Regions from separate parts of the Homo sapiens genome. Here all the other regions are linked to region 2. The links come from fine-mapping of genetic effects on gene expression. A gene starts in region 2. Each other region holds a variant in brackets. All regions are shown on one strand. Distances are between the middles of the regions.

The links.
Region 1: its variant is fine-mapped to the expression of OAF in vagina (GTEx, PIP 0.98).
Region 3: its variant is fine-mapped to the expression of OAF in whole blood (TOPMed, PIP 0.94).

The regions. Positions count from the first base shown.
Region 1 is chr11:119,346,336-119,356,742 of GRCh38, reverse strand. USP2 (ubiquitin specific peptidase 2) reads left to right here. Exons shown (of 13, transcript NM_004205.5): 13 at 1-1,528. MFRP (membrane frizzled-related protein) reads left to right here and starts at 10,038. Exons shown (of 15, transcript NM_031433.4): 1 at 10,038-10,283; 2 at 10,369-10,407. The coding sequence starts at 10,230. It also overlaps a transcript of C1QTNF5 not described here. The variant T/C (reference allele first, on the strand shown) is at 5,309.
Region 2 is chr11:120,205,261-120,215,667 of GRCh38, reverse strand. It overlaps OAF (out at first homolog), which reads right to left and starts at 4,636. Exons shown (of 4, transcript NM_178507.4): 1 at 4,158-4,636. The coding sequence starts at 4,388. RefSeq lists silencers at 4,319-4,428, 4,519-4,568, 4,749-5,008 and an enhancer at 5,342-5,883.
Region 3 is chr11:120,175,651-120,186,057 of GRCh38, reverse strand. It overlaps LOC124902773 (a long non-coding RNA gene), which reads left to right and starts at 460. Exons shown (of 2, transcript XR_007062923.1): 1 at 460-808; 2 at 8,139-10,407. The variant G/T (reference allele first, on the strand shown) is at 5,403.

The sequences.
Region 1 (10,407 bases), 860 kb after region 2:
CAAACCTGACAAGAGAAAAACAAACCTGAAGCTGCCGAGCAGGAGTGGATGCAGCCTGATCAGGGTCTGGAGCAAGGAGCCGGGCTTTCCTGAGCTGTGGCCCGGCAGGGAAGATCGCCTGGACGTGGAGCCAGCATCGCCCCGTGCCCTCGGCGTTTGCATTTGTAAACTTGTGGTCTTCCTATGTGTCAGAAACAACTGTGTCTTGGGGGGGAAGACCCTCGCTGCGCCGCTTCCCGCCGCAGCGCCCGCGCCTCCGAGGGGACAGCGCCCTCTGGAGCTCGCTGGGAGCATCACCGCCTGGACGCCCGCGCCGCGGAGGAGCCGGCGCCCATCTCCACCCGCACGGCTCGCCGGTCCAGAGCCATGAGCCAAGAGCCCTCTTCACGCTGCTAACTCCAGGGGACAGACGAAGGGACATCTTTGGAAAACGCTGGTTTTGGTTTTTAAAAAGCCCAACTTTTTTTTTTTAATTTCCATAACTAAAGTGTTCAGACTGGAGTGCTCTCCTTCAGGCCTCTTCATAGCTGGGACGTTGCACTGGTCCTTTTATTGCTTTTCCAAGTACAACTTTCTAATGCTAGCCCTCCGTGGTGCTAGGTGGGCGTTGGCCAGGCCCCAAGCACAGCCACAGTAGACCTGGGATCTAAAACAAGTTTCTGTTTTGGGGGTTTGGGTTTTTTTTTTTTTTTTTTAATGTTTTGAATGGAATTTAGTTGCCTCCAAGAATTGTGCCTTATAGCATTTGGGGACCAGGGGGTAACTGCCCCTCCTGAAATATCCCTCAGCCTCTTCCCTTTTCCCCAGTGCTCTGTTCAAACCCGCCTGGGAAAGGGATCCTGCCCTTAGCCCTGGCTCGTTGTGCATTGCAGTGAGGCAAAGAAGAAAGCAGGTAGATTCCTTCCGACAGGGCATCAAGTTCTTCCCGCCCACGTCCTCTAGCCCACCCCTGGTCTGCTCCCCAGCTGTTTGAAGGATAGCACAAGCCCCTCGTCCCTAGAGCTTCTCTCCCTTTTATTTATTCTCTTAACATCCCTTTCCCCCTGGCCTTCCTGCCCCCGCCCCCTTCTCAGAGCCTCCTAGACAATAGGCCCTTTGGACCGAGTTTCTCAGGGATGCCCAGGCCACCCCTCAGCTCTTCTTAGCGCTGGTCTCCAGTCCTGCCCTGGGAGCTGGAGCCTGGGTATTTGGGGACATCTTGCCTCAGTTGTATGGTTCTTTCCTGTGGGCTCAATTTTGCCCTACATAGTTGGATAAAACTCTGTGCTGTCCTGGAGAGTAAAGCTGTTCACCCACACAGCTGGGCCCGGCTTGTGCCCCGTGGAGCCTGGCACATTCCAGGCTCCTAGGAGGAGGCATCAGAGAAAGACACCCTGAGTTTTACTGGCCTGACACCCTTCTCCAGAGAAGACCTGTGAACCTGAGCCCAAGGGCAAGTGTACACTTGTTTACTGTGTAAGCAAGAGTAGAAGAATGTCTAATGTACAGTGGAACCTTGTACAGAATAAATAATAGCTTTGAGAAATCAGTTGGCAGATGTTGGAATCTTGATTTGGGAGTGTTTGAATCTAGGAAGGGCTCCTAGTATATTAGGGGCCATCTATTTCATTGTTTCAACCAGTTTGTAAATTCCAAGTTTCTGGAAAAAGTTACCCACTTTTTAGTTTGAACATTTAAGTTTAATTTTTTAAAAACTGAAACAATACATATTTTGGACACTATATTCTTCATCTGGATTCACCAATTGTTTACAAACACATTTAAATATACAGCCATCCCCCAGTATACACAGGGAGATTGGTTCCAAGATACACACATACCAAAATCTGCACCATATTCAAGTCCCAAGGTCACCCCTGCAGAACCTGCGTATATGAAAATCAGCCTTCTATATATGTGGGTTTTGCATCTTACAAATGCAGTATTTTCTATCCTTATTTGGTTGAAAAAATCCACGTGAAAGTGGACCCACACAGTTCAAGCCCGCATTGTTCAAAGGTCAACTGTACTTTATTCTGTCTGCCGAAACATTTTCAGGTGAGGTGTTATATCACCACTTCTAAATACTTGAGCATACATCTCCTAAGAATCAGGACATTCTCCTATGTGACATGGTTTTCACATGTCCATTTTTTTTTTTAATGAACTGTCTACTTTTTAATGCTGGTATGGGCTACTCTCTTAATTCTTGGTTGAAACTCTTGGGGCTGGGCATGGTGGCTCACACCAGTAATTCAAGAAGTTGAAGTGAGAGGATGGCTTAAGGCCAGGAGTTTGAGACCAGCCTGGGCAACATAGTGAGACCCTGTCTCTATGAAAAAAGAAACACTTGGGTGTTTTCACAGACCTATGATAAGATAAAATACATCTCTCCAGCAGATGTCAAATATAGCAAAACTTGCTCTTAGAGCAGAGTATCATTACCTGGATGTGGAGTGACCAGGGCTTAGTCTTTTTTTTTTTTTTTTTTTTTTTTTGAGACAGAGTTTCACTCTTGTTGCCCAGGCTGGAGCGCAATGGCATGATCTCAGCTCACTGCAACCTCCATCTCCTGGGTTCAAGCGATTCTCCTGCCTCAGCCTCCCAGTAGCTGGGATTACAGGCATACGCCACCACGACCAGCTATTTTTCTATTTTTAGTAGAGACGGGGGTGTCTCCATGTTGGTCAGGCTGGTCTCGAACTCCTGACCTCAGGTGATCTGCCTGACTCGGCCTCCCAAAGTGCTGAGATTACAGGCGTGAGCCACCACGCCCAGCCAGGGCTTAGTCTTTGATAAGTCAAAGATCTCAGCTTTACCACCTAATACTTAGAAACAGTTACCTTTATGTTACAGGCTTTGTTCCCTAAAGTGCTTTTTCTCAAGACTTCAGATTTAACCCCTAAAAGAGGTGATGCCTTTGGTGCACTCGGTGACCCACGTCTCCTTTGGTGTCACCTCTTCATTAGCACTGTTCAGCTTTTCCATTTCTGCTGCTGGTCTTAGAACTAGGGAAGCTGAAGGCTCCACCAGGTGAGCCTGGAGTGTTTCATCAGGATTCTTCCTCACTGCCTTCACTGCTCCAGACACTGAAAAATAAAGGCCTGACTATTCCATCCTTGCTGAGACAGAAGCACCTGCTGTCACTTAAGGCCTGTGTGCTGCTATCAAACCCACCTCATGGAGGGGGACAGTTGTGGGGGCATTTTTCTAAGCATTTCCCAAGAGTGAAGAAGAGGGATTGAAAATGACAGTGACTTAAAACTTGGAATTTCTCCCTGAGGGACCCAAACTTCCCTGGCCTGCCCTGAGGGTGGCCTGACCCAGGCTGTGATTGGAAATCTTACCCTGATGATTGCCCCCAAGCCGCAGGCAAACAGGATCCCCTCAAAATAAAAACATGAGGCTTGTAGCAAAGTGAATGGCTGTACTCTGACTAGTTCTTCACTGGAGGTAGAAGCAGCCCTGTAATTTTTGCTGTCTTCCACTGGGGAACAGATGGACTCTAGGAGACATTGAGGGCAGGGGCTCCACTCAGGTCCGCCACCCTTGCTCCCAGCTCTTCAGTAATTAATCTGTGGTGCTTTCTCATCCCCATGGCAACAGGTCCTAGTGTTACACAGAGCACAAACACACGCAGGTCTGTCCCCACGTTTTTTTGTCCATCAAGCTTTGCCTCCTAGCAACTTGGCTCTCTTCCCTCATTGTTTGCTCTTGATCCAGCAGGCCTCTCCCTAGGGGAGGGGCTTCCCCTGCAACTGCTCTTGTGTGACCTTGAACAAGAACCTCCCTCTTTCTGGGCCTCCGTGCCTCATCTGCAAATTACTGAGATAGGACTTGTGGATCTTGAAGGTCTCCACTCCCATGTTATCAATCATTCTAAGTCACTTTTCCTCTAAACACATGCTCAAGTCCCAAGATACGGAACTTAACTCTAGTTCCCTGGTTCCAGTTTATAGAATTTTTTTAAGTGACCAATGCTCAGAATGCTTACTTCTTTCTATAAAGCTATATTTTATATATTTTTTTATTTATTTATTTTTTGAGACAGAGTCTCACTGTGTCACCCAGGGTGAGAGTGCAGTCATGTGATCTCGGCTCACTGCAACCTCCACCTCCCGGGTTCAAGCGATTCTCCTGCCTCAGCCTCCCGAGTAGCTGGGATTACAGGCATGCACCACCATGCCTGACTAATTTTGTATTTTTAGTAGAGACAGGGTTTCACCATGTTGGCCAGGCTGGTCTCGAACTCCTGACCTCAGGTGATCCACCCGCCTTGACCTCCCAAACTGCTGGGATTACAGGCGTAAGCCACCATGCCCGGCCTCTACAAAGCTTTAGAGTTAGATCATAGAGGTCACCTTGTCCATGATCTCGATTTGGCAGTGAGGATACTGAGCCCTAGAGAAGACTTGCTCAAGGCCACATAGCATGTCAGAAGCAGAGACAGGATGGAACCTGGGTATCTTGACTCCCTACCCAGTTCTCTTTCCGAGTACTCTGTCTTTAGTTTGAATAATTGACAGCATTTTGCAGGACTTTCTGCAGCAAATTTTCCAACCCTGCATCTATTAGGAACTGAGCCAAACAGCAGTGTGACATTCACACATACCCAACAGCAAAACCACCATGATCTGCCTCCTACCTGGACCCTAGTAGGTCTGTCTGAGCTGGACACCTCTGAGGGTCCCCATCCTTCATTGCTCTACGAGCAGAAACAAGCACCTGTGCAGGATGCAGGAGGCAGCAGAAAGAGACTAACATTCACAGCCCAAGCAAGTTACTTAATCTCTCTGAGCCTCAATTTCCTCATCTGTAATCTGAGCATAACATTACCTATTCAGAGTTGTGAGTGCCAGTTAAGAAAAACAGTGTCTGGCCAGGCACAGTGGCTCATGCCTGTAATTCCAACACTTTGGGAGGCCAAGATGGGCAGATAACTTTAGCCCAGGAGTTTGAAACCAGCCTGGGTAACATGGTAAAACTCTGTCTCTACAAAAAGTACAAAAATTAGCCAGACATAGCACCATGCACCTGTAGTCCCAGCCACTTGGGAGGCTGAGGTGGGAGGATCAATTGACCAGGAGGTTGAGGCTGCAGTGAACCGTGGTCACACCAGTGCACTCTAGCCTAAGCAACAGAACAAGAACCTGTCACACACACACATGCACACACACAAAAAAAAAAAAAAAAACGAAGGAAGAGGGGAGAGAGAGAGGAAAGGAAAGGGAGAAAGGAAAGAGGAGAGGAGAGGGGAGGGGAGGGGAGGACAGAGGAGGGGAGGGGATGGGATGGGTGGGTGTCTGGCACATAGTAGGTACTCAACAAC[T/C]CAACAAACTTCCATTTCCCCCGCTCAACTCCCATTTCCAGGACTATACCATCAAAGCTCCACTGAGATTCTCATGGTGGGTGATCCTCAGCAAATTTTTTTTTAAACCAACACTGTCCCTATTTAGCAAATATTTAATTCCTCTCATCTCTCTGGATGCTTCTATCTTCTCTTCCTTAACAATACACTTGATGTATGTAAGTATAGCATTGCCCAAACTAAACAGAGTGCCCGTTAAATAGGGATTCCAAAATCAAGGAATTGGCTTTTCCAATTTTCTGATATTTGGGGGCATCTGCCTCTTGGAGGTAGTAATGGGATTGAGCTGCTATCTCTCATGCTTCTAAAGACTAGGGAAGCCTATGGCCGAGGCAGGAGAATTGCTTGAGCCCAGGAGTTCGAGACCTGGCAACATAGGGGGATCCCTTCTCTACAAAATTAGTCAAGCATGGTGGTGCACACATGTAGTCTCAGGTACTTGGGAGGCTTAGGTAGGAGGATTGCTTGAGCCTGGGAGGTGGAGGCTGCAGTGAGTTGTGATCACACTCCAGCCTGGGTGACAGAGCAAGACCCTGTCTCAAAAAAACAAAAACAAAAACAAAAAAAAGTGGAAACCAGGACTCCAACAGCCCCAGCTCTGCAACCCAGCCCTGCCCCTGGGCAACTGTACAACTTTGGGCAAAGGCACTTAACTTCCAGGAGCCTTGGTGGCATCCAGAAAATGAGAAGAAAACACCTACCTCCCTCCTCTTGCCACCGGGGCTGGAATAAGGATGACGTGAGGCAATGAGCTGAGGGGTCTGCAGTGGATTTCACTCTCAGTGTGTTTTAGGTGTGCCACTCCCCAACCCTGAGCTGGCCCCTGGCTCCCCTCCTTTCCTCCAGAAACCCCTTCATAACGCAGACAGTTGCAGGAGTGCCTGTGCCCACAGAGGCACTCTGCGGCCTCTACTACATCCTGGGTGTAGTCGAGGATGGCCGTGGGTAACAGCAAAGCAGAGAGAAGCTTCCTGGTCTTCCAGGCCTCCCCTTGGCCTCCCTTCTGTTGTCTCCCCACTCACAGGAATAGTTCTGAGACCCAGTTGTGACCAAGCTCCTCAGGCCACAGTGCTAAGCCTCTCCTCCTTCCTGGAATTCCCTAACCAACCCCCAAGTTCTGCCTATTCAAATCCTTTTCAACCCTCAAACTTTAGACTAAAGGCTCATCTCTTCCAGGAAGTCCTCCTGCTGGCCCCATCAGAGGAAGTCATTGTTTCTTCGGATTACCCAGCATTTAATCTCCAGACTTACGGCCCAGTAAACTGTCTTCATCTCTGTCCAGTGAACCACACTTCTCAAAAGACTCCCTCACATTCTTTTTTTCTTTTTTTTTTTTTTTTTTGAGACAGAATCTTGCTGTGTTGCCCAGCCTAGAGTGCAGCAGCGCAATCTCGGCTCACTGCAACCTCTGCCTCCCGGGTTCAAGCAATTCTCCTGTCTCAGCCTCCCAAGTAGCCAGGACTACAGGCGTTCACCACGATGCCCGGCTAATTTTTGTATTTTTAGTAGAGATGGGGTTTCGTCATGTTGGCCAGGCTGGTCTTGAACTTCTGACCTCAGGTGATCCACCCACCTCAGCCTCCCAAAGTGCTGGGATTACAGGCGTGAGCCACCGCACCCAGCTGACCCCCTTACATTCTTTTTTCTTTTTTTTTTTTTGAGACGGAGTCTTGCTCTGTCACCCAGGCTGGAGTGCAGTGACACGATCTCAGCTCACTGCAAGCTCCACCTCCCAGGTTCATGCCATTCTCCTGCCTCAGCCTCCCAAGTAGCTGAGACTACAGGCGCCCACCACCACGCCTGGCTAACTTTTTTGTATTTTTAGTAGAGATGGGGTTTCACTGTGTTAGCCAGGATGGTCTCGATCTCCTGACCTTGTGATCCACCTGCCTCGGCCTCCCAAAGTGCTGGGATTACAGGCATGAGCCACCACACCCGACCTCCCTTACATTCTTAAAAATTATGGAGAACCCCAAAGACCTTTGCTTTATGTGGGTTCTATCTATTAATATTTACCAAATTAATATTAAAGCCGAGAGAAATTTAAGTATTTTCTTACTAATTTTTAAACAATAAATTTTAATATAATGAACCCTTTACAAGCTAAAGTAAGACGGAGTCTCGCTCTGTCGCCCAGGCTGGAGTGCAGTGGCGCAACCTCGGCTCACTGCAAGCTCCGCCTCCCGAGTTCACGCCATTCTCGGGCCTTAGCCTCCCAAGGAGCTAGGACTACAGGCGCCCACCACCACGCCCGGCTAATTTGTTTTGTACTTTTAGTAGAGACAGTTTTCACCGTGTTAGCCAGGATGGTCTCGATCTCCTGACCTCATGATCCGCCCACCTCGGCCTCCCAAAGTGCTGGGATTACAGGCGTGAGCCACCATGCCTGGCCAATAATGTTTTTAAACCATATAATCCCATCACTTTGGGAGGCTGCGGTAGGAGGATTACTTGAGTCCAGGAGTTTGAGACCAGCCTGGCCAACATAGTGAGACCCCATCTCTACTAAAACTGTAAATTAAAAAAAATTAAAAAAAAATTTTAAAAAACCTCCTATATTTTCTGAAACAAAAAAAAATTTAGTAAGAATGGGCCGGGCGCAGTGGCTCACTCCTGTAATCCCAGCACTTTGGGAGGCTGAGGCAGGTGGATCACCTGAGGTCAGGAGTTCAAGACCAGCCTGACCAACATGGAGAAACCCTATCTCTACTAAAAATACAAAATTAGCTGGGCATGGTGGCACACGCCTGTAATCCCAGCTATTCAGGAGGCTGAGGTGTGAGAATCCCTTGAACTCGGGAGGTGGAGGTTGTGGTGAGCTGAGATCTCGCCATTGCACTCCAGCCTGGGCAACAAGAGCGAAACTCCGTCTCAAAAAAAAAAAATTAGTAAGAATGGCAGTGTGGCTTTATATTTGTGCAAATCTCTTTAGCATCTGGCTTAATAGAAGGCAGCTGGACTCGCGTCTCCTTCAGCATTCACCCCAATGTCATATCACATGTCACGGAGCGTCTGGAAAACATGAATGAGTGTGAAAAAGGCACATCATGTCTTAGTGTTATTATGAGCCTAGTTCTAAGCTCTCAAGTCCTCTAAAAAAAGGCCCCGGGCCCCACTTTGAGAACTGTCACAGCAGAGCAGGGGCTCCTTGAGACGAGGGCACCTTGTCTCAGTCGGCTCCATGAGCCCAGTGCCTGGCCAGACCCCGGCACAGCAACCTCTCTCTCAATGATCACAGCGAACGAGCAGCTTCAGAGGAGCAGACCCAAGGGCGTGGCTCTCCCAGCTCATCATTCTCAAAGCTCAGCGCAGGGCCACTCTGTCCAGGAAGCTGCCCCTGTGGCCAGGCTCTTAACACACAGTGTGGCAGGAATCCTGCTCTGTCTTGATCCACCCAGAATGAGAAGTACTTTGTGGTCAGGGACTGTCTGATCCTCTCCAAGAGCACCTGTCCCTACAGCTCCCAAAAAGTCTCTTCCCTAAAGACCATGTACCATTAGACTTCCAAGGGTCTAGGAAACAGCTTGACCCCCTAGACAAAAGCAAACTAAGACCCTCCAGGGACGAATGGAGAAAAACTTGTGGGTGGAGGCATCTCCTTTCCTGAGTGCAAGGAGGGCAGCCTGTCCTCTTTGCTTCCATCCCCAAGGGGTTCCTCACTCTGCCCCCATGTCACTCTGATCCCTCTGCTCCCCCAGCATGCCTCAGCCCCAATGTGGGGTGAAAGAGGTACATCATAGAAAACGTGAGCCTAAGATCTATCCATTCCTAGGCTCAACTCTCATCTCTGTATCTTACCAGCTGTGTGACCTTGGGAAAGTGACATAACCTCTCAGAGGCCAGCACCAGCATTTGTAAAATGGTGACGCTACCTCATAGTTATGAAAGGAGAGAAACTGCATGTAGCCCTCTTGCCCAGACATTCTACAAATAGTAGCCAGAAATATGAGGCTCTCTCCCCACTTCCCTCCCTGCCAAACTCTCAGCCTAAGCATGGCTAACACAAAACAGATTACCAATCCCTTTCCTTTCTCCCTGAGGACAGCAGGGCTAGGCTGGGATTTTCCAAGAGGACTTCGCCCATGGAGAAACAGGCATGAAGTAATCTTGTTTGCAGGGTGTAGGTTTCCTACTGTGCAACAGCCCCAGTGGCTAGACTCCACACCCCAACCCTCCCCAAGACCTGGGCACCTTCTCCCCCTTCCCTGTCCTTTCTCCTGCGGGCTTAGGGGTCCCAGGAATGAGCAGCCAGTCCCCCTGCTCATGCCATGTTCTTCTCTCTTGTCCTGGTCACACCGGTGATCTACCAGGGGCCTTCCAAAGACCCGGCCTGGCCAATACCCCTGTCACCCTGGTGGGGAGGAAAGGTGGGCAGCTGGCTTTGTCCACCCCCTACACCCTGCTTCTTTCTCAGACCACCTAAGGCTCCCTTCTGCCTGCAACTTCTCTCCCCTCCCAGCGACCCCCTAAGTGCTCACTCAGTGCCTTGGGTGATGGGGTGGAGAGCTCCCCTCGTCACATCCCCGCACAGAGCACCTAGTTTCCTCTGCTGGGTGTTCTCAGCCACCGCCTGTGCCTTTAAGAACTGCCACCCTGTGCCAGGGGCTTGACCTCAGCATCCTCAGCTGAGTTGGATTAAGGGACCATTTCGTGCCTTTGTGAATTCCTCCTGGCTGCCATCCCTTCCCCCACACAGAGACAGAGTAGCCCATAGGCCAAACCACTCTACCAAGGACAGCCCAAGAACTGGTCTAGCCTGGCAGCCTTTTCCCTCGGGTAGTAGAGGCTGCCCCTCTGACAGGGAGTTTGTGGTCAGCGAGTGGGCCCTTGGGGGTCTTGGGCTGTCACAGGGACTCCAGAAAGCCATGCAGAGCCTTGTGCCATGAAGGACTTCTCAGATGTCATCCTCTGCATGGAGGCAACAGAATCGAGCAAGGTAAGGACCACATAGAATCGTGCTCCTAAGACCCAGCACCAGTGGTCACTGCTGCCCTCAGCCCTCAAGTATCTCCCCCTTCCAGACCGAGTTCTGCAATCCTGCCTTCGAGCCTGAGTCTGGG
Region 2 (10,407 bases):
TATGATTAGATATGCCAGTGATTATGTACATCCAGGGCTAATTACACCCATAGGATGTGGAGTATAAAGGAGAGTGTTGCCCACCAAGGGCGCGCTGTGAATTAGTTTGTGTACTGAGGGCACACAGCATTAGGCCCGAAGTATATGTGCTGCTCAAAACACATTAGGATTAGTGTGGGTAAGATGACAGGTTTCAAATATGTGACTGAGTTTGGGCCCTACCCTCATTTAACCTGAGCTGGCTCCTTCTCCAGGTCCCCTCCCCTCCCCTAGAGCAACTGCGCCAGTGGTTCCCAAACTTTGCTGCACACTGGAATCACCTGGGTTCTTTTGTCACCCAGACTGGAGTGCAGTGGCGCGATCCAGGCTCACTGCAACCTCCGCTTCCTGGATTCAAGCGATTCTCCTGCCTCAGCCTCCTGAGTGGCTGGGACTACAGGTGCATGCCACCATGCCCAGCTAATTTTTTTTTATTTTTTATTTTTTAGTAGAGACGGGGTTTCGCCATATTGGCCAGGCTGGTCTCGAACTGCTGACCTTGTGATCCGCCTGCCTCAGCCTCCCAAAGTGCTGGGATTACATCACCTGGGTTCTTTAAAAGAAAAAACAAAACCAAAACGACTGCTGCCTGACTCCCACCCTGAGATATTCTGATTTCACTGGTAGGGTGTGCAGCCCAGGCAGTGGGAATTTTCAAAGCTCCCCAGGTGATTGTGAGGTGCGGCAAAGCTGGGAGCCACTGAGCTGCGGCATTCTTTCAGAGCTGTGGCTCGGTCAGCCTGATGGCCTTCACTCAGCCTCTGGGCAGGGCTTGCAGTAATGCAGGATGGCCATCTGATAGCTCCAAGCTACTGAGTCTGCAAGCCTCACCTGGGCTCCAGGCTATGTGTCCTCCAGTGGGTTGACGACTGTGACTGCTTTGCTGCGTCAAGGTCCAGAGCAGTAGTGTGGGAGAGAGTTAGACTGTCAGAACTCTGACGCGGGTAGAGGCAAACAGGTGGGAAGGGCTGGAGAGAGGGGGCTGGATAGGGTTGGGAATCAGACAGAAGCCTTGGTCCCATCCCACACAGGGAGGCTCACTGCTGCCCTGGGTGGACTGTCAGGACAAGGATGGCTGCTCCTGCTCTGAGGGGCTGGCCAGCAATTTTGGCACTTCAAGGAGAAGGTTAAGATGAAGAGCTCAAGGATCCTCCAGGCTCAGTACTGACTTTTCTGCATGACCTTGGGTCCGTTGTTCAATGTCTTTGAGTCCAAGTTTAGCAGAGAGGATCCTTGCTGAAATGCTGTGTGAGCCACAATTGCAAAGCTAACAGCTCCTATGTCTTGAGCCCTTAACACAGTATCTAATACAGAGTAAGGATGTCATAGGCACTACTAACTGTGGGATATGTGCTATTATTATCCCCATTTTATAGATGAAGAAATGAAGGTCTGGAGAGATCAAGTAGCTTGCCCAGGGTGAACCTGCTAATAAGTGGTAAACCAAGTCTGTCTCATTCAGTCTGGACTGTTCTCCCCAACGTGATCAAATGGCAAACAAGGCTCTTCCCAAGTAGATGAGGACTTTTCCCAAATCACTGCAAATGAGTTTGGTACAAGAAACACAAAAAGCGTGACTTCCCAGGCTGGAGTGCAGTAGTACAATTGCAGCTCAGTGCAGCCTCAGCTCCTGGGCTCAAGTGGTTTTCCTGCCTCAGCCTCCTTGAATAGCTGGGACTACAAGGCACACACCAGCGTGCTCCGCTAATTTTTAAATTTTTTGTAGAGACAGGGGTCTCGTTTGGCCTGAAGATTTCATATTCCTGGTTTCAAGCGATAAGCCTGCCTCAGCCTCCCCAAATCCTGGGATTACAGATGTGAGCCACCACACCGAGCCGAAGTCTTTTTCTTATAGGAAAAATCATTCCTTCTAGACCAAACTTTCTTATGGAAATCTGACAAACACTATGAGGCATGGGGCCTTGAGAACTGAGAGGTGACCCACCCTAGAAGGATCTGGACATAGAAGCTGCTGTGGCCAGTGCAGGCAGTGAGTGAGTGGCCTGGGTGAGGGTAAGGCTATTCTCCCCCACACTGCACTCTCCAACTCCACCCCGTCCTAGGCCAATGGAGAAACCTGGAGTTAAAGGGACTTGGGAAAGCTGGTTTCCTTTCGGTGTCTTCCACTCCCAATTCCCTCCCTTGCTGATGAAATTGGAGATGCCAGAGGTGGGTATGAAATGGTAGCTTCTGGGTCAGAGGCTAACCTGAAAATCAGACTTTAGAAACCTGGGTGGAGGTCTGAACCACTGTAGAGATTCAAATGAGGTGCTCACAATCTCCAGATGCATTTTCTAACTGGGCAGTCAGATGACCAGCATACCCTCACTCCAATCCCCAGCACCCCACCCCCGCCATCAGCCACTACTGCCAGCACATCACAGCTACCTGGGTACTTCTTAGCCTCTCCCTTCAGATCACAGCAATAAAAACCTTCCAGATGTAGCTAAAGGCTATAAAAGCTCAGCCCTACCCATTGCCTTTCACTGTCCTGGCCACAGCCAGGGAAGTCTCTCTGCAGGATTCTAGTGCAGCCACAAGATGACATCCAGTGGGCAGGGGGTTGGGAGCCTCACAGCCTGGCCTAAGGCTAACTTTCAAGGACAAAGGGCTTGGACAGAAGATTAGATCCCCGATTCCTGATGGATCCAGCCACTAACATAGATTTTTCAGGAACAGAACACACTTGATAAAATTCTCCTAGGGTTTAGGTGGGGAGGCAGGGTGCCTAGCTTAGGCCTGCGGAGTAAGGATGGGCTACAAAGTCTTCCCATTTGTGAACGCTCACTACCCCACCCCCCATCTGCCTGCTTATGTCCAATGTCAGTGCCAACTCCGTGGCCCTGGGGCAATCAGCGGTCAAGCCTCACCCCCCAACCCCACCCACCTCTAGCGGTCAAGCCTAACCCCTCACCCCTGCTAACTATGGCAATCTGGCTGGGTCCCTAACTGACTTCCCAAACTCCGCCACCTCTCCTCTAAAGCGCCCTGTCTCTACGAGGGAGGAAAGACAGGCAGCTTCAGCAAGGGTCCCCGGGGCCCCGGGCTCCCCCAGCTATCTAATCGGCTTCACCCCTGCACTCCCCCAGGGACAGAGCCTCACAGGGCCTCTCTTTAGCTGGGGGAAGGAGACAGAACGCTCCTTTTGAATACCTAAGACTTACCCACCCTCTTTTCCTCCAGCTTTCCTGCTGCTGGGTCACTGTTAGTCACTCACCATCCAGGCCCATTTCCTGATAATCCCCCAGCCCCCTGGGTGCAAGGCCCTTCTTATTCCCTCCAACACAGACACACACACACCAAGAGCGGGCTGGTCTCTAACTCCCAAACCGTAATCTGGGACACACACCCACACACCCACACCCACCCACCCACCCACCCACCGGGCTGGTCTCTAACTCCCTAACCCTAATCTGGGCCAAAATAGGGGGGTTGGCTCGCTTCTCTGCCAGGCAGAGTGAAGGGCAGCACTTCTCCCAGAGGGAGGGGGCCTCAGCTGGGGTCTCTCTCCAGGATCCTCCTGCTGCAAGCGCCCCAGCCTTCCAGACCAAAGAGGAGACAGGGCTTCTCCCGGCTTGAGAGGGACCAGGGGCAACCAGCTCTCCCCAGAAAAGTGAAACAGAGGGAGAGGTGACAGAGGGACTCCAAAATGTCAGGGCTGGGAGGCCTCGCAGACCCCTCAGTGCCCTGTACAGGGGTGAGAAGCCAGGCCCATAGGAGGAAAGAGGCTTGCTTGCTCTAGATCACACAGGGAGAACCCACAGTGAGAGCCCACAGCGAGAACACTTCGCCTAGGACTTTCCCACTAGAGCACAGGGGAATGACTCCAAGAAGGGAGTCCAGTCGTTAGTAGGAGTTCTGGAGGAGGGTTAGCACCTGGGGGGCTCTGGGAGCGCTGGAGGAGGGAGTGAGAAAGGGAAGCAGAGGGGTTCTTTGGAGAGAATGAAGGGGTGGGCCCTGGGGAGTGGGCAAAGAGGTGTAGAGAAGAGCCCGGCGTGACCTTGGGCCAGCTGCGTCTCCCTCCTGGGCCCGTCTTTCCGTCTGCAGGCAAGAGAGCGCCTGGGATCCCGGGGGGCTCAGGCTTGAAGGTGCCACCCCGGCGAGTGAGGGCGCCTCACCTTCTTGAAGTCGGCGGTGAAGGAGACGAGGGTGCCGTCGGGCTTGCGCAGCTCGAGGCTGATGCTGTCCGCGTCGCTGTCCGCCTGCAGGCTCTCCTCGGTCACCTGGCCGTCCGGCAGCCGCACGCGGACCCGCAGCTCGGCCGGCGCACCCGTTCCCAGCAGCGGCGCGAGCAGCGGCAGCAGCAGCAGCAGCGCAGGGCGCGCCAGGGGTACCCCGGGAAGGCGCATCCCCGGGGGCCGCTGCCGTCCGCGGCCCCGGCGCGCCGCGTGGGGGCGGGGAGAGGCGCAGGCAAACTTCGCCCAAAGTTGGGGGCTAGTTCGGGGCGCCCGGGAGCCGCTCCGCCGGGGGCCTTGGCCGCGGGGTCGCCCGCGAGGTGGCGCGGACGCACGTGGGTAGCGCTCAGCAGGGCGCCCCCGGCGGCCCCGAGGCGGAGACGGCGCTGCCCCGGCCCGGCTCCGCGGCCCCGGGCTCCAGCGCTGCGAGCCTGTGTTTTGCACTTTTCATTCAATCCCACCCCCCGTCACTTCCTTCAGAAAACAGAAACCACCAGGACCCGCCTTAAAGAGACCGCGCACCTCGCGGCCCTTAAAGGGCCCGCGGCTGCTCTCCGCACTTCGGCGTTGGCCGGGCAGGGGGCGGGGAGAGGGGGCAGCGGCTCCGCGGCTTTGTGCGAGCGGCCTCCTCGACCTCCCTCCCGCCCGGCCGCGCGGAGTCAGCGACCCAGGCGGAGTCAGAAGTTTGCTCTCCCGGGGCAAATCCCTTCCTTCCAGCAGGGGCAGGACGGGTGACTCTTCCCCCGCCCTGCACCGCCACCCCCCCCCCCCGCTTTTTTTTTTTTGGCTTGCTTTTGTGCCACGTGGATGAAATAATCGGGCTTGGATTTTTAGGGGTTTTGTTTGGTCTTTCAGTTTCTCTGACAGCGAATTTCTAAAAAGCTTCTGCAAAATCAGACCTCGCTTTGCACTCTGCCTTTTCCCTGCCCCACACTGGGAGGGTGGATCGGGGGTTCTCGCCCAGCTTTGCCACGGCCAGGTGTTAGACCTTGATGGGTCAGGTCACCCACTGGGACGCGGCCCTCAGGTTTTGTGAGCCCCTGTGCCTCTTTCCTTTTCAGTCCTGCCTCCCGTGCTTCCCGCATTCACGGCCTTTCCTCAGTCCTGCCCACCACCGCAGACCCGGTTCTTTCTCTCTATTATAGACTATGAAAATCCAGGGAAATGTTGGATTCCAGGTCACTTGGGAGAATTTCCAGGGACTCGGGACGCTGGCGCTCCACGACAGTGGCTTTCCCACAAGCCACAAGGAAACATGCGTGCCCTGCGGTGCACCCCAACAATAAGAAGGGTGAAGACCAGGAGATCTGGATTGCTGCCTCCTCTGATTAGTTGTGGAATTTAGGCACGTTTTAAAAATTCTTTGGGCTTAAGTGTCCCCGTGTGTATCGTGGAAGCTGCTCAGACCTACACTGTCCTGCCAGTCCCAGGCAAGGGAAAAAGCCCCACGAAGATGCTCAAAACCAATTGTTCCCTGACTTCCATTTTCACTTCTGTTGGGACCTTGATTACTGATGGGTGAAAACTCCCTTCTCTGCAGCCTCCTTCCCTTCTAGGGCTTCCCCAGCACAGGGCCATGTGAACTGCAGGGTCCGGCTAGAATCGGCCTCTTGCTATCATCCAGGGGCCCTTCCCGCTACCCGCTCTCTGCTGCCTAGATTTAGGACTGAAGGGAATTTAAGAGACTACCAAGTCAGCCTTTTCCAAATTTGCCTTTCCTGAAGAATCACCTGGATGCTTGTTAGAAAATAGATTCCCGAATCCCTAAACCCATGGAATCAGATTCTAGGGAAAAGAACTGAGGATTAGCATTTTTGACAAGGCCCACATGATGCTCGACATAAGTGGTTGACAGCAGGTATTTGGCAGATGTTTAAGCATAGAGCGTCTGGGCCAGACGCGGTGGCTCATGCCTGTAATCCTAGCACTTTGGGAGGCCGAGGCGGGCGGATTGCCTGAGCTCAGGAGTTCGAGACCAACCTGGGCAACAAGGTGAAATCCCGTCTCTACTAAAATACAAAAGAAATTAGCTGGGTGTGGCGGCGTGCGCCTGTAATCCCAGCTACTCGGGAGGCTGGGGTAGGAGAATTGCTTGAACCCAGGAGGCAGAAGTTGCAGCGAGCCAAAATTGCGCCACTGCACTCCAGCCTGGGTGACAGAGGAAGACTCCGTCTCTACAAAACAAAACAAAACAAAACAAAACAAAAACATAGAGCATCTGAAACAAGCAGCATCCTTCCTGGAGAACCTGGCTCCTAAGGAGTTCATCTTCACATCCGGGAGATAAGGCAGGCTGTTAGGGAATAATTGGATTAGCACAAGGATTGCTCCCCTAAGGACTCCCACTCTTAGCTGGCAACCGTTTAGACTAGAGATGCCCAGGGTCTTGAAATTGGCCTCCCGCCTGACAGGATGCTGGATCTCCATGCGGCCTTGAAGCTAGGTCTCCCACATGAGTCAGCCCACACAGTCATTAAGGGCCTCGCCCACATTTCCTAACTTCCCTTGTTTCAGGTCCTGTCCCCATCCGCCACCAGCTCTGCCCTCAGCCATTTCCCAGGCTCTTACCCCTTCTCCTCCCACAACAGCCCAGAAGTGGGCAAAGAAGCCCTGGATGTCAGATTTCTTGTTTAGGTCCCTGAGGTTTGTCTCTGTTCACATTTTGGGTTTGGAAACAAGGATGGAAGACCTCATCTCTTTCCCACCTCTTCCCCATAGTCAACTTCCTTCTCTACTTCAACCACAGATCAAACCAGATTTTTCTTTGAAAGTGATAGGGCATTTGAAATCTCACTCCATTACATAAGCCCTGCCTACCTACATCTCTATGCCTTGCTATTGATTTCACCTGACCACCTCTTCAAGCTCCAGGACAAAACTCAGGTTTCCCAGGAAGACTTTCTCGACTCCCCACCGACCTAGCCCTCTGTTCTGTGCCACTGTCTCCGGCCTCTGGACTCCAACAATAGTCATTATTATAGCAGCTCCTCCCCCATTGTATTTTGATTATGTCCAGGTTCTGTGCCAAGCATTTTACATGGATCATCTTATTTAATTTTCATGGCATCCCTCCAAAGTAGGTTCTATTCTTAGGCTCTTTTTACTGACTAGGAAACCAAAGCTTAGAGAGGTTAGGCAACATACCCAAGGTCACAAAAGCAGTAGAGCCAGCCGGGACTCAAACACAAGTCTGCCCGCCTGACCACAAAGCCCTTGCTTTGAACCACAGTAGCCTCTGCCTGTCGGTAGCCCTCACTTTCTGCCAGTCCCACTCGGGGCTCACATCCTGCGCTATCTTCTCCTGTTATCTAACGGTTTCGCGTGTGGCAATCCTGTATCCCCAGTGAAGCCGTCAGCTAGTTCAAACAGGCCAGCCCCGTGCTGGGAACAGACAGCGTTTCCCTCAAACCATCCGGGCATAGAAGCATCCATTCATCTTAAATGTAAAGGCCGTCAGAGGAAGAGCTCTAACAAGCCTAATTACTCCGACTACAACCAAACAGCCCTCATTGTCAGAGAGTTCTTCATGTCTCATCGCAAGACCTCTGCCACACCATAAACCAATTTCCTTTTTTTTCTCATCTCTAGCCCTTGGAAAGCAGTAGCCAGTAGTGGTTCAGAAAATGGGCATCAGGATCTCAGTCCTGGAGCTCGGCCCCAGTCATGAGCTGTGCGTCAGTGAGCCTGTTTCTTCAACTGTAAAATGGGCGCATACGTTTCTCCCTCACTGGGTTGCTTTGAAAATTAAATGAAACATTGTGCATAAAATATTTCGCAACATGTTTGGCATATAGTACAGATCCAATAAATGGTGGCTGTTATCCTTTAATTCTGTTTATTCTTTCCCATTGTATCACATACTAAATCTCTGATTATACAAGTCTCTCCCTCTCACCCCCTGCCACATGTATACGCGTGCATGTACACATATTCTTTCAGAAACATTTTTTTGGCTGGGCGCGGTGGCTCACACCTGTAATCCCAACACTTTGGGATGCCGAGGCGGGTGGATCACCTGAGGTCAGTAGTTCGAGACCAGCCTGGCCAACATGGCAAAACCCGTCTCTACTAAAATACAAAAATTAGCCGGGTGTGGTGGTGGGCGCCTGTAATCCCAGCTACTCCGGCGACTGAGGCACGAGAATCGCTTGAACCCAGGAGGCAGAGGCTGCAGTGAGCTGAGATCGTGCCACTGCATTCCAGCCTGGGTAACAGAGCGAGTTGGTCTCAAAGAAAAAAATAAATACATAAAAAAGAAATATTTCTTCCTCTCTATCCTCTTTAGGTGTCTAAGTTTTCTGTGTCTTGAGACCTCCGAAACTGAGAAATGGATAGCAGCAAAACCTCGGGAGGCACTTTCCCTTTGCTTTTTGGTCTGAGTGTGCCTTAATTTGGGAGGAAGAGAAACACCAAACCATCTCCCAATCTGTGCCCAAGAAAACAGGTGCTGACAAGACCCTGCAGGAGGTGGAAAGGGAAACTGAACCAATGACCTTTACCGAGAGACAGGGAGAGAACCACCAGGTGCTTGTCTTTGCAAGACTGGAAAGATTTTTTTCTTCCCATGACTTTCTGTGAGTGGCTGTTTGGTTTGGGTTAGGTTACAGCCCCTTTGTCTCTGGGCCTTTGCAGATAGAGTGGAGGATTTGCGATTTGAGTTTGAGGGAGAACCAGGGATGGAGTGAGGGATCCCCTCTGCTTCTCAATGTCAATTGCAAAGCTCCAGACACTTCATTGCCAGCACAGAAGTACAAATTAGCTTTCCGCCATCACACAATTATGCAGTTCCATCCATCAAGGGTGTGGTGGGAAAGTGGATTGGAGAGACAGCTGGTGGGGATACTGAGTGGAAAGGGAAGAGAAGTGGAGATGGCTGGGATAGGCATGGAGAAGCTATTCTTTTCGGGCAGAAAAACCAGGCAGAAGGGAAGTTGTCATGGAGGTGGGCTGGATCCATGACTTTCAGGAAGGAAAAGGAAGCCTGGATGATCAGAGCTGCAAGCCAAGGCAGATCTCAGTCCATTGATTAGTCCATTGATTATGGTAGCTCTTCAGGTGCCTTTTACCCTCTGCCTCTTGCTATAATTATTTCACAGTATTTGTGTTTGAAACCAGAGGCTACAAAAGAACCTAGGCCAGCTGTAAGTGGTGCTGCTCAGATTAGAAGCCTGGCATTCTGAAGCCAGGGCTTGTCTCCTCCTTTGACACGGCACAGAGCTCCATGTTGCCCATTGACTCTTGAAAGTCCCAAACATAGCTGGGCACGATGGCTCACGCCTGTAATCCCAGAACTTTGGGAGGCCGAGGCAGGCAGATCAGGAGGTCAGGAGTACGAGACCAGCCTGGCCAATATGGTGAAACTCCGTTTCTAATAAAAATACAAAAATTAACTGGGCATGGTGGCGTGTGCCTGTAGTCCCAGCTACTCAAGAGGCTGAGGCAGGAGGACTGCTTAAACCTAGGTGACGGAGGTTGTAGTGAGCCAAGATCATGCCACTGCACTCTAGCCTGGGCAATAGAGCAAGACTCTGTCTCAAAACAAACAAACAGAAAAAAGTCCCAAACATAACCTCTTTTCCTCCATGCTAGTTCCTCCATGAGGCCTTCCCTGCTCCCCACCCCCAGACTCATGCATTCACTCGTTCATTCAGTCATCTAGCACGTGAAGAGTGAGTCACTGCACTAGATGCTGTGGGCACAGCAGTGGAACAAGGCAGATGCAACAATTATTTACCCTGAGATGGAACATGCAAGAGAAGCAGGCTATAAAATCATGGCAAAACAAAATATTTTAATTATAATTGTTATAATGGAGAATTAGAGGAGAGTCTAGCCTAGACCAGGAGGCCTTCTTGGAAGGCTTTTCCAGGTGTAGCCTAATCTTAAAAGATGAATCAGCATTGACCAGCAAAGACAATGTTCCAGGCAAAGGAAACAGCTTGTGTACAGGACCTGAGTCTGGTGGGCTTCCCAGAAACATCACCAGGTAGCTAGGGCATGACGGGGGTGAAGAGTTGCTTGAAATCATGCAGTACAGTTTGGCAGGGCCCAAGAAACGCAGGGCCTTGGAGGCAATATTAGCACTGGGCTTGGTTTTGTTTTGTTTTCCTAAGATCAATGGGCAGTCATCGAAAGGTGTTATATAAGGGGTGACATGATCAGACTTGTATTTTAAAAATATTGTGCTCAGGAA
Region 3 (10,407 bases), 30 kb after region 2:
TGGAACATCACAGCTATTCTCAGCTTTCTGTCCATATTCTGTGGACAATCATGGAATTTTTTAACCCAATCTTGGGTTAGGAACACCCTCCAAACTCTACTGGAAGCCTCAAAGCACTTTCCTTCATATTTATGAGATCTGAGGCAGGTTTCTTTAAGTCTTTGCAACTTGGTTTCCTCAATGTAACATGGAAACACCCAGCTACTAGCACGGCTGTGAGCTTGGTCTCTGCAGAGCACCCAGCCCAGGGCGTGATGTTTAGCAGGGGGCCCTTGATAAATTTAAATTCCCTTCTCCTTCCCCCACTTTTCCCTTTTACTTTGCTACACACTATTTAAGCCAGGAGAGATCAAACTGACCCCATTGCCCTGGGACAAAGGAATGATGGCCTCAATTCAAGAGCAAAGTACAGGAGTTTTTGATTAACTCATAAACACTCCCGACTTCCAGCAGCCCAGCTGCTGTGGTGTGGGGTGGGGAAGGGAGGGGAGGGGAGGTTGTTGAGGGGACATGCAGGAAAGAGATTAGGAAATTCAGAACAGGAGGACACAAGGGCAGGGGAATGCTGAGGCCAAGGCCTTCTCCCACCACCTGCCTCCTGCGGGAGTGATTCCACAGTGCAGAGGGAGAGCCATTTGGAGGTCCGGCACCCGCTCTGCCCATGCCTATGCTTCAGGCTCTGTGAGAAGGCTGGACTCCTTCTGGAACTTCAGGACCTTGGATGCTCCCCTCCTCTGCTCCTGCCTCCCTTCCCCCAGCCCTGGGGTGTGTCAGATGTGTGTTTTCTCCTGGACTCAGCTGAAGCAAGGTCAGCCCAGCTTTCAAGGGGAGGAGCTTCCACACTCTAGGTCAGTGCTCCCGCGGACCAGGGACTTGACCAGAGAGCAGAGAGCATAGGGTGGGGTGTGGGGTGGGAGGACAGAGCACAGGGAGCCCTGGGCTCCCTCCAGAATCTCAGAGGTGCTCACATCCAGAGGGTCTCCCAGGAATCACGGAGCCCCCCCTCTGCCTCCATGCCAAAGGGATCCCAACTCATCCCAGGAAGAAGCCCAAATCTTTGTGCCATGGGGACCAAACATTCCACATGGTGGCTGTCCTCATGGTTTGCATGGTCATTCTGATTTCTAACCCGAATCTTTCCCGCATCGCTAATGGATCCTGTAGGTTCCAAGGAGTTAGTCATGATATCAAGTAAGCAGTTTGTTTCCCCTGAGGATGAGCCAAATTTTGGGAAGATTCTCAGCTGCCTGTCTCCACCCTCCTTCATCCAACTTACCACCCCGACCCTGTCCTCCTCCCCACCCGGACACGTGGGAAAATGCCCTGTTAGCCCTTCCAGTCATGTGAATGAGGCCACGATTCAAAGGCAGTGGGCAAGAAGGAGGCCACAGGGAGCAGCCAGAAAGAACCAGCCCTTTGTGCTAGACAGGGGTCCTTGGGGGATGAGTGCATTTTTGGCGTATTTAGAAATATTTATTTTTTATAATGAGCAGCAGAGGAGGAAAGGGGAGGGAGGGAGAGGCAGAGAGGCCAAGGCAGGACTTGGGAAAAGAGGCTGGAGCAGTGGTGAGGGCTGGGAAGGGAGGTTACAAGAGCGAAAGGAGAAACAGACAGGAGCCAAAGGGTAAGAAGTGGGGACAGAGAGGGAGAAGCAGGACGGTTCTGAAGACAGATGGAGATAGTGACGACACAGGTGCCTGCCACCATGCCCAGCTAATTTTTGTATTTTTAATAGAGACAGGGTTTCACCATGTTGGCCAGGCTGGTCTCAAAATCCTGACCTCAGGTGATCCTTCTGCCTCAGCCTCCCAAAGTGCTGAGATTATAGGCATGAGCCACCATGCCCGGCTGTCATTCTGATTTCTAACCTAAATCTTTTCGGCATATCTCATAGCCAGAGTTCTGGCTGGCGGCCTAGGAAACACCTCTCCTCCTCAGTCATTTGTAGAGTAGATATCAGTGATAGCTCTCCGGAGCCCCCATCCTCTCCCGGCCTGTTTTCCACTTGGCATGCTGTGTGGTGAGCCCTCCATTCACAGGCTTGTTTCCCCCAGGCACTGCCTTTACTGGCCTCAGAAAGCCTGACACCTGGCCCTGGCTGGAATACTCAGGTCCGTGTATTTACAAACATGGTTAGAGCATCAGCTCCGTGCCTGGAGTGTGCAAGGACCTGGGGAACCAGATATAGTCCCTCTCTCATGGAGCTGACCTAGCTGGGGAAATGGATGAGCGAATCAATGATTATACTGCATGATGATGGGGATGATGGCAGGGGCCATGGAACACAGTGGGGCTCTAGAGTGAAGGGTCTGGGGAGGTGGGGCGCGGGGTGGCAAATCCAGGAGGGCCTCTTGGAGGACATGGGGACATACTGAGTCCTGAAGAAAGGGAGATCTCATCTCTATCAAATTCTAGTGGGTTCAGGCTTGCTAGTCTCCTTTCCCCAGTCTTGCCACCCATTTTTGGGAAAAATAACAATAATTCATCAATCATTAATTCATCAGAAAAATACTTATTGCCTATGTAACATGCCAGGCATTGTGCTAGTGTCTAGAAATTCAACGATGATGAAGACCTAGTCACTGCCTCCCTGAAGCTCCCAGCCAAGTGAGAGAGCTGACAAGCAGGCAAGCAGTGAGCCCCTGGAGACCATGTGGAGTCTGTGCCAGGGCTCTCGGAGTGCACAGAACCCCTGTGAGCAACCAGCCTTCTCACTTGACACTCCTTCCCTGAACCCAAGGAAGAGGAGCCATCCTTGCCATTTGACAGAGGCTGCTGGCTTGCCCAAGGTTCTAGGGCAAGTACCTAGGGGACCCGCCACCTCTCCTCAGTTCTCAGACTCGAAGCCCCTGCTCTTGTGTCCTCCTAGCCTGGTCTTGCAGGAGAAAGAGGCTGAATGAAGGTGGGCTTGTCGCCTGGGTGCTGACTGCTCATGAGCAGGCTCCTGGGTGACCCTGCAGAAAGTTGGAACAGTGTCCTTCCTCTCAGGCTGCAGGTCAAAGATCTGGTTCCTTTGCTTCTCTGGCTTCTCCCAGTAGGTGGGGCTGTGGGAAAGGCTGGGAAGGTCAAGGGCCTCTGGAGTACTCTAGGCCCCTGGGCTTAGCCTGGCAGAATGGTTCTCCTCTACTTCCTACCTTCTCCCTCCTCCTGCCACATCCTCCCCAGCCTCCTTACCTTCCTCCTCCTCCTCCTCCTCATCTTTCCTGTGTCGTCCTCTTCTCCTTCCTCATTACTTCTCTTTCTCCAGTTTTCCTCCTCTTCCTCCTCTCCCCTTCCCTTCCTTTCCATTTTCTCCCCCACCTCCCCTCTTCCCTCCTCCTCTTTCTCCTTTTCTCCTTCGAACTAATTGCTTAAGGGGTGAAGACCAGGTCGACTTGTGAAAACCCTGATCCATCGCCATGGTGATGCTCATTCAAACTGAGTTCAAAGGAAATTGTTCCAGTTAAAACTAACAAGCTGGAGCCGAGGGCCCCAGGAAGGACCAGTGCCAGGAGGAGCAAGCCCTGCACCCAGAAAACTAGCAAAAACAAGCCCACGGGTCGCTTATACTCCACCCCTCTGTGTCTTCTCTGCAACCTTCAGATGGGCCCAACTAAAAGGGAACCTGAGAGGTCCTTGCAGGGAGCCCCCTGCCTCCGGGCCAGACTCCACCCAAGCCACTTCAAACAACAGAAAGGCCTGCACCTCCTCTGTGGTAAAGCCCTCCACTACCATCACTGCACAGTCTCCCTTACGCTAGGGTGCTGGTTTTTAACCACCCATGCTTTTGGAGACTTCTTCACGGTTTACACAAACACTTCCCATTGCTTTCGAATACACGTGGATTTGAAAGTACCAAGAGGAAAGGAACAAGAATGGCTGAGGCACCTGCCCCCTACCTAGGTGCTGTCCTAAGACTTCATACATGTTCACGCAACCCACTAATGCCATTATTATCTCCACTTGGCGAGTTTCCAAGGATGAGAAAGCGCCCAGTGGAAGAAACTGCTTAGAGCTTGATTTGAGCTCCACTAGGTCAGGCTGGTTTAGTTTGACCTCCACTAGGTCAGGAATGACAGGGTAGGCCTTGAATTGGGGGGAGATGGCTCAAAACAGGAAAGAGGAAGGGTCTTGGTTCCAAAGTTCAAGTGAGTTGTCTTCTGTGCTTTGAGTTAACCCGATCGCACTTGCTTCCCTGGCCCTCACAGCATCCTGCCTGTACCGACTCCCAGTTCAGCACAGGCGACTTTCAGCCCAGTGGCTGCAGATGGTTCCTCTCTATTGTGTGGGCAAGGACCAGGACTTCTTTGTCCATAGCCCAGGACCTGGCTCAGAGTGGGCTCTGGCTGTTAATTACATGTCCGAATGCTGAATGCTGAATGGAAACACTAGTCCCTTGGGAGCTGGAAGATTTGAGGTCCCCCAGGTCAAGAGAACCCGAGGAGCCCGGCTTGGTGAGCTTAGTATAATGGATGCACCTGAGGGCAGCAGGAGGAGAATGTCCTGGAGGGCCTTGTCGTGCTGATGTGGTGGCAGGGGCCAGCCCGGGGACCCTCTTCCTTAGGAGCTCTCACCTCTGCCTCATTCCCTCTCAGCATCCCTTTCTTGGTTGTTGTTTTAAATCCTGAAATATCTAGTGATCCTTCCAGGTACTAATAAGACATTAGTCTAGCAGCAAAAGAAATTCCTTGAAGGCGAAGACCGTGTCTGTAGTTCTATGGTGCCCCCGCAATGCAAAGTGCAGTGCTATGGAGCTCATGGGGGAGCTTCACAGGTACATGAGTGAGTGATCTGGGGTCTGGGTGCCCATGGGAGGGGCTCTGGGAGCCTACAGGTTTCAGATCTGCTCTTTCCTCAGATGTACTGTGAGACCTTGGGAAATCTCCTTGCCTCTTTGTTCCTGGGTTACTTCACGCGTAACCAAGGATGCTCTTGGATGAGCCATCCTGCTCCCCCAGACACATCAAGAGCAGAGTCATGCAGCTATGATGCATGATCGCAGCTCCTCCAGCATCAAGGACCTCAGCACCTCCCTCCCCTCCAGGGATAGGGACCTCTGGTGGTGACTGAGGTTCCTGCCTGACTCTCTGGGACCATCCGCTGCCCCTCCGTCCCCTCATTTCCACCCCCCATCACCTGCCCCTCCAAAGTTCGATGTGTCTGGATGACTGAGGTGAAATCCAGCCAGAAGGGAGGAAGTGACTCAGCCCTTGTTGGGGTGGGGGCACTGGAGAAGGCCCAGGGCCAGCCTCCCACTCCCAGGACAGCTTGCGCTGCTTTGTACTCAACCCCAGCCTTTCATCCCGGCAGCTTAAAGCCCCTTTCAAGCTGGAAGCAGTCCTGGGAGCTGGGTCATTGTCTCAATTAACAGGAGAAAGCTGGGGCCCAGGCTGGGTGGAGGCAACTTTCCCCTGAATTAGGCC[G/T]TGAGTCAGATGCCCAGGAAACCCAGGACTTCCTCGCAAGCCAATTCCCCCAGGCTCCTGCCCCAAGCTCTGGGCTGCAGGGGCCCGTTGCAGAGGAAGTGAGAGCTGTGTCCTTCCCTGTCACTCCCTGTAGAGGAGATCAGGGTCCTGCACAGGACCCCGAGGGTGTATTAGCTGGGCTGGAATTTCCCAGGGGGCCATTCAGTGGGTCCCCCTGACATTGTTGTTACTTGTGGGGATCCTGAAGAGGCTGTGCATTCCCAAGTGGAGAGAGGGGAACAAGGTGAGTGAACAGATTCTAGTAATAGACCCAGCCAGCCTTGGGGACCCTGAGCTGTTACAGCCAGCACACCCCACTGACTTTCTCTCCCTGTCACTGTTAAAATATTCATCTGGGCTGGGTGTGGTGTTCCGCACGCCTGTAATCCGAGCACTTTGGAAGGCTGAGGCGGGTGTTCGAGACCAGCCTGACCAACATGGGGAAACCCTGTCTCTACTAAAAATTCAAAATTAGCTGGGCATGGTGGCACATGCCTGTAATCCCAGCTACTCTGGAGGCTGAGGCAGGAGAATTGCTTGAACCCGGGAGGCAGAGGTTGCAGTGAGTCGAGATTGTGCCATTGCACTCCAGCCTAGGCAACAAGAGCGAAACTCCATCTCAAAAAAAAAAAAATCTGTAAATCATCTGTAGCCAATCATTTAATAACTGCTGAGGCTCTTGTGTACCTGGCCTGAAGCAAACAGATCACAGTTCTAAATCCTGGCTCGGTTGCTGCCTGGCTGTGCAATCTTGGGTAATTGCTTTAACTTCTCGGAACTTCAAGTGCCTTGAAGCTCCTTGGCTCAGCGTCTAGAATATAGGAGATTCCATCCCCACTAATATTGCATAGAAGATGAGAATTACAGAGTACAGGGGCTGGCGGGAATCTTCTTCGCTTCTCTTAAGGAACAATGCACAGGGAGGTCATGGAATGCTTCAGGTCACACAGCCAGGAGTAGGATGCAGGTTGCCACGGAGGAGCTTTCAAAGGGTGTCTGTTCCTGCCCTTCTAGGCTTGGATGAGGCAGCTCCCCGCTTGCTGAGTCAGGGAGGAGAAAGGCTGGAATAAGAAGGAGTGTGAGGGTGGGGTGTTGTGGGGAAGTCGGGGGCAGAAGAAAATCCAAGATATTGCGCAAAGAAGAGTGGGAGTAGGGGAGGGTCTGATTTAATGAGGCAGCAAGGAGGAGAGGGGCTGGCTCCCCCAACAGAGACTGCCGGCCCCTGTGGTGATACTCCATGTGCTGGGGATCAAAGCTGCCCTGGGAACACGGCAACAGTGCTGGGCCACTAACGCTGGAGCTTCCCAGGGGCCTGCTTGATGTAGCTGCCTCTGTTTCCTTCCCAGCTCATCACCCACGCTTATTTCTGAAGGGGCCTGTTCCAGCCCAATCGCCTTCTCCACGCCTCCAGCTTGGGTTGCTGACTCAGTCCACTGAATTGATGTCCAGGGGCACCTGTGGCTGCAGACTGTCCATCTCATCAATGCCCAGCTTCCCTCTCTGGCCCTTGGTGGCTACCACCATCTCCACCTCCTTTTGTTCTCTTGCAGAGCTCTAGGCTAGCTCAGCTTATTTGCTCAACAACCTCAGACTCTCAGTTTTGCCCTTGGCCTTGGCATTGGTCAGTAAAGTGAGTGCAGTGGGCCTGGCCCTTTCCCCTCCCTGGACCTTTTCAAATCTCAGTTCTGGGTTGACATATCCAGGCCCTCCATTAGCCTCCGTAAGTGTGAGGCCCCTCTCTCTCAGCTGCTGTTTCTGCAGTGCGCCGTTGAGAGGCCCAGCTCAGGCCAGAAGGCCCAGGCCTGTCTCAGGTTTACCCATCCACGGGGCTTTGGTTCTGGCACAGAAACAAGCTAAGGGTGAAGAGATCAGCATGGCTGAATAGAGGCAACTGAGAGTCCTCTGGGCAAATCTGGAGGATGCATTAGGGTGGTGATGGGTGGAAAGGATTCTTAAGAGGGAGGGAAACTGGGCCTGGTATCAAAATCGTAAGGAGAAAAGAATGTGACCTTTCTTCTGGGGTTTGTGAATGCTGGAGAATGGTTTCCTCAATGTGACTTCTAAGATGGTTATCTGAGGGTCTCAAACTCTTTCCCCTTAGGGCTTTTGTGCCTCCCACTGGGCACGTCCCCCAGTCCTGTCTCCTCCAGTCTCTAGCTCAACATTTCACTTGAGCTTTTTGAGGTCTTTGGATGGGTATTAATTCCCTCGCTTCTCAGATGAAGAAAAAAGGAGACCTAGAGAGATCTGGTGATTTACTTAGAGACTCACAGCAGTAATGTTAGAGCCAGGAAACTAACCAGGTCCACCTGGCTCCAGAGCCTATGCTGGTTCCATTACACCCTCATACAGACGTGTGTGTGGGGGGTGTGTGTGTGTGCATGCATGTGTGCACATGTGTGTGCATGCAGTTTCTGTATCGAGTATGTGATTTCCCAGAAATCTTTAGAGAATTGTTTGATGGTCTCTCTTCCTTCCTTCCTTCCCTCCCTCCCTCCCTCTTCCTTCCTTCCTTCCTTCCCTACCTCCCTCCCTCTCCTTCCTTCCTTCCTTCCCTCCCTCTCCTTCCTTCCATCCTTCCTTCCTTCTTCCCTCTCCTTCCTTCCTTCCTTGCTTCCTTCCCTCCCTCCCGCTCCTTCCTTCCTTCCTTTCTTCCTTCCTTCCTCTTCCCCTTCCTCCTCTTCTCTCTCTCCCTAGATTATACAATGAGCTGTCTTTGTTCATGATGTGGTTTCTTTCCAAGCTTTAGAGGATCAGAAGTGCTGGCCTTTGTCTCTCTGCAGCTTCAGAACTCCAGCTTCTAGCCCTGTCTGGCGAAGAGGAAAGTGGTTTTATAACTCTCAGCTGGTGTAGTAGCAGTCTCAGTACCAATATGACTTCTAGGTGAAATATATACATGTCTTAAAGGGGTAAAGTGGAGAAGCCAGAAGGGTCAGGGCACCTGTGTTCTAGGCTTTACTCAGCCTTTTATCAATTATATGACCTTGGACAAGTCTCCAAATTTTAGCTTCCTTACTGTGTGATGGAGACAACGATGCTATCAGCCTCCTAAAGTTGGATTAGAAGACACAATGTGCATGAACACATTGGGTAAACTACAAAGGATCAAGTCATGCATAAATGTCAACTGGGGGAATAAAACTATTGGACGCATCCCCCACTAGCGTTTCAATGGGACATCATGAGAATAGCATATGCTCCTCACCCCTGTCAGAGACAGGACCTAGTTGGATGGATCATTCTCTGTGATAATTCTTATGGCAGAATGAACTCACAGGCGGCCTCCCTACCTTTCATCCTGGTGATGTTAGGAATTAGTCTGACTACCATTAGTCATTCCAGATGCTGAGAACAGTGAACAACCGACATGGTGACACTTCTACTATAAGCCAAGCTCAGGAACGGGTGATGCTCCTTAGATGAATTAATGCTGGGGCTATTGTTTTATAAGGGGCAGGGTCAAAGACAAGCTCAGAAAGATAGCCCTTCTTCATAAGAGACCAGATAATTGGTGCTGAGAAAAAAGCTAGTGCTCATCATGGATGGAGACAGGCTTGCTTCTAGGCTACTGAGGACATCGACCACAGCTCTCCCATGGGAGACTAAAAGGCTTCCATCACACTGATGCCAGCTAGGCCATCAATAAGGGGGCTTTCTGTGGGAAGGGATGGGGCAGGGACACTGGTCCAGGCAACCAGAAAGAAGGGACTTTAGGAAAAGGGTAGGAAGTCAAAGAGAGAGACCAAGAGGTCTGGAGAAGAATGGGACAGAAGTCTATCTCAAGGTCAATGTCAGGTGGGCTCCTTTCTTTGTTGGTTCTTGGAAGTTAAAAAGTGAACTTTCCACCAGTGTATTGCTCTTAAGATCCACCTGCTCCTCAAGTGGAATGAACCAATAAGCCTTGTATATCTCCATTTCACTTCTCTATATTTGACCTGGGACACATTCTCCAGGACGAAGGTGTTCAGAAAAGCACAGAACTCTTTCCCCAGTTTCTTTCAGGGGATTTCTCTGAGTAGAATGGAGGAGCCCTGGACTCTGATGGGTGACCGTGTTGAGTCATCATGGTTACTGGCATCAGAAGAGGGCTCCAGGGGCCAGCGGTGGAGATGACCACCCTGCCCCAGTGTGAGAGACTGAGTTTCCTGAGGGCTGTTCACAAGTTAGCGAAAAATAACTTTTAAGAAACCTGAGTAATGACATCTTCTCAGGGTCTAGCCACAAATGTTTCTGATTGCACATTCTGGCTATAGATACTAATACTTGGGTTGGAAATAGACCCAATAGGTCATCTTGTCCATCCTCCTGCCTCAGGCAGGACTAATGATATATGTTTGTCTTATTCTTCCCCTAGAACTCCAGGGGTCAAAATACTGTATATTCCTCCACTCATCCATCCATCCATCCATCCGTCATTTATTGAAACATGAGTAGGACAGTGGACCTCTCCTTTAACAACTCATGGTATAGTCTTTTCAGAGTTTCCAATCCCTAACCAGCAAGAGTAATTTCTAATGTCTAAACTAAATGTCTAATCTAATCCAGTGTCTAATTTCTAACATCTAATCTAATGTCTTCATTTCGTAAATAAAGAGAAGGATAAAACAGGCTCATTCATTCATTCACGCATATGCAAATGCATGCATTCATTCCACAAATACTTCTGAGCATGTTGTCTGTTCCAAGTGAATTGGAAGGCACACCTTTGTTTTGGATATGCCACTTACCTTTCATGTTCACTAGGTACATCCTAAGACTGGGAACTCAATCAGCATTGAAAATGCGGTCAAGAAAAGCTCATATGTAACTACGTATTTGGACAAAATGTAGCTCCTACAACTCCTTCCATTTAAGGATCTCAAAATATCTAAGAGCATGATCATTGCCCAGAGGGAGTGATCGTGTGTTGAGGGTTTCATCCCAGCTGGCATTCGGGCGGCTCCAGAATTCCTAATTCTTTGCCACG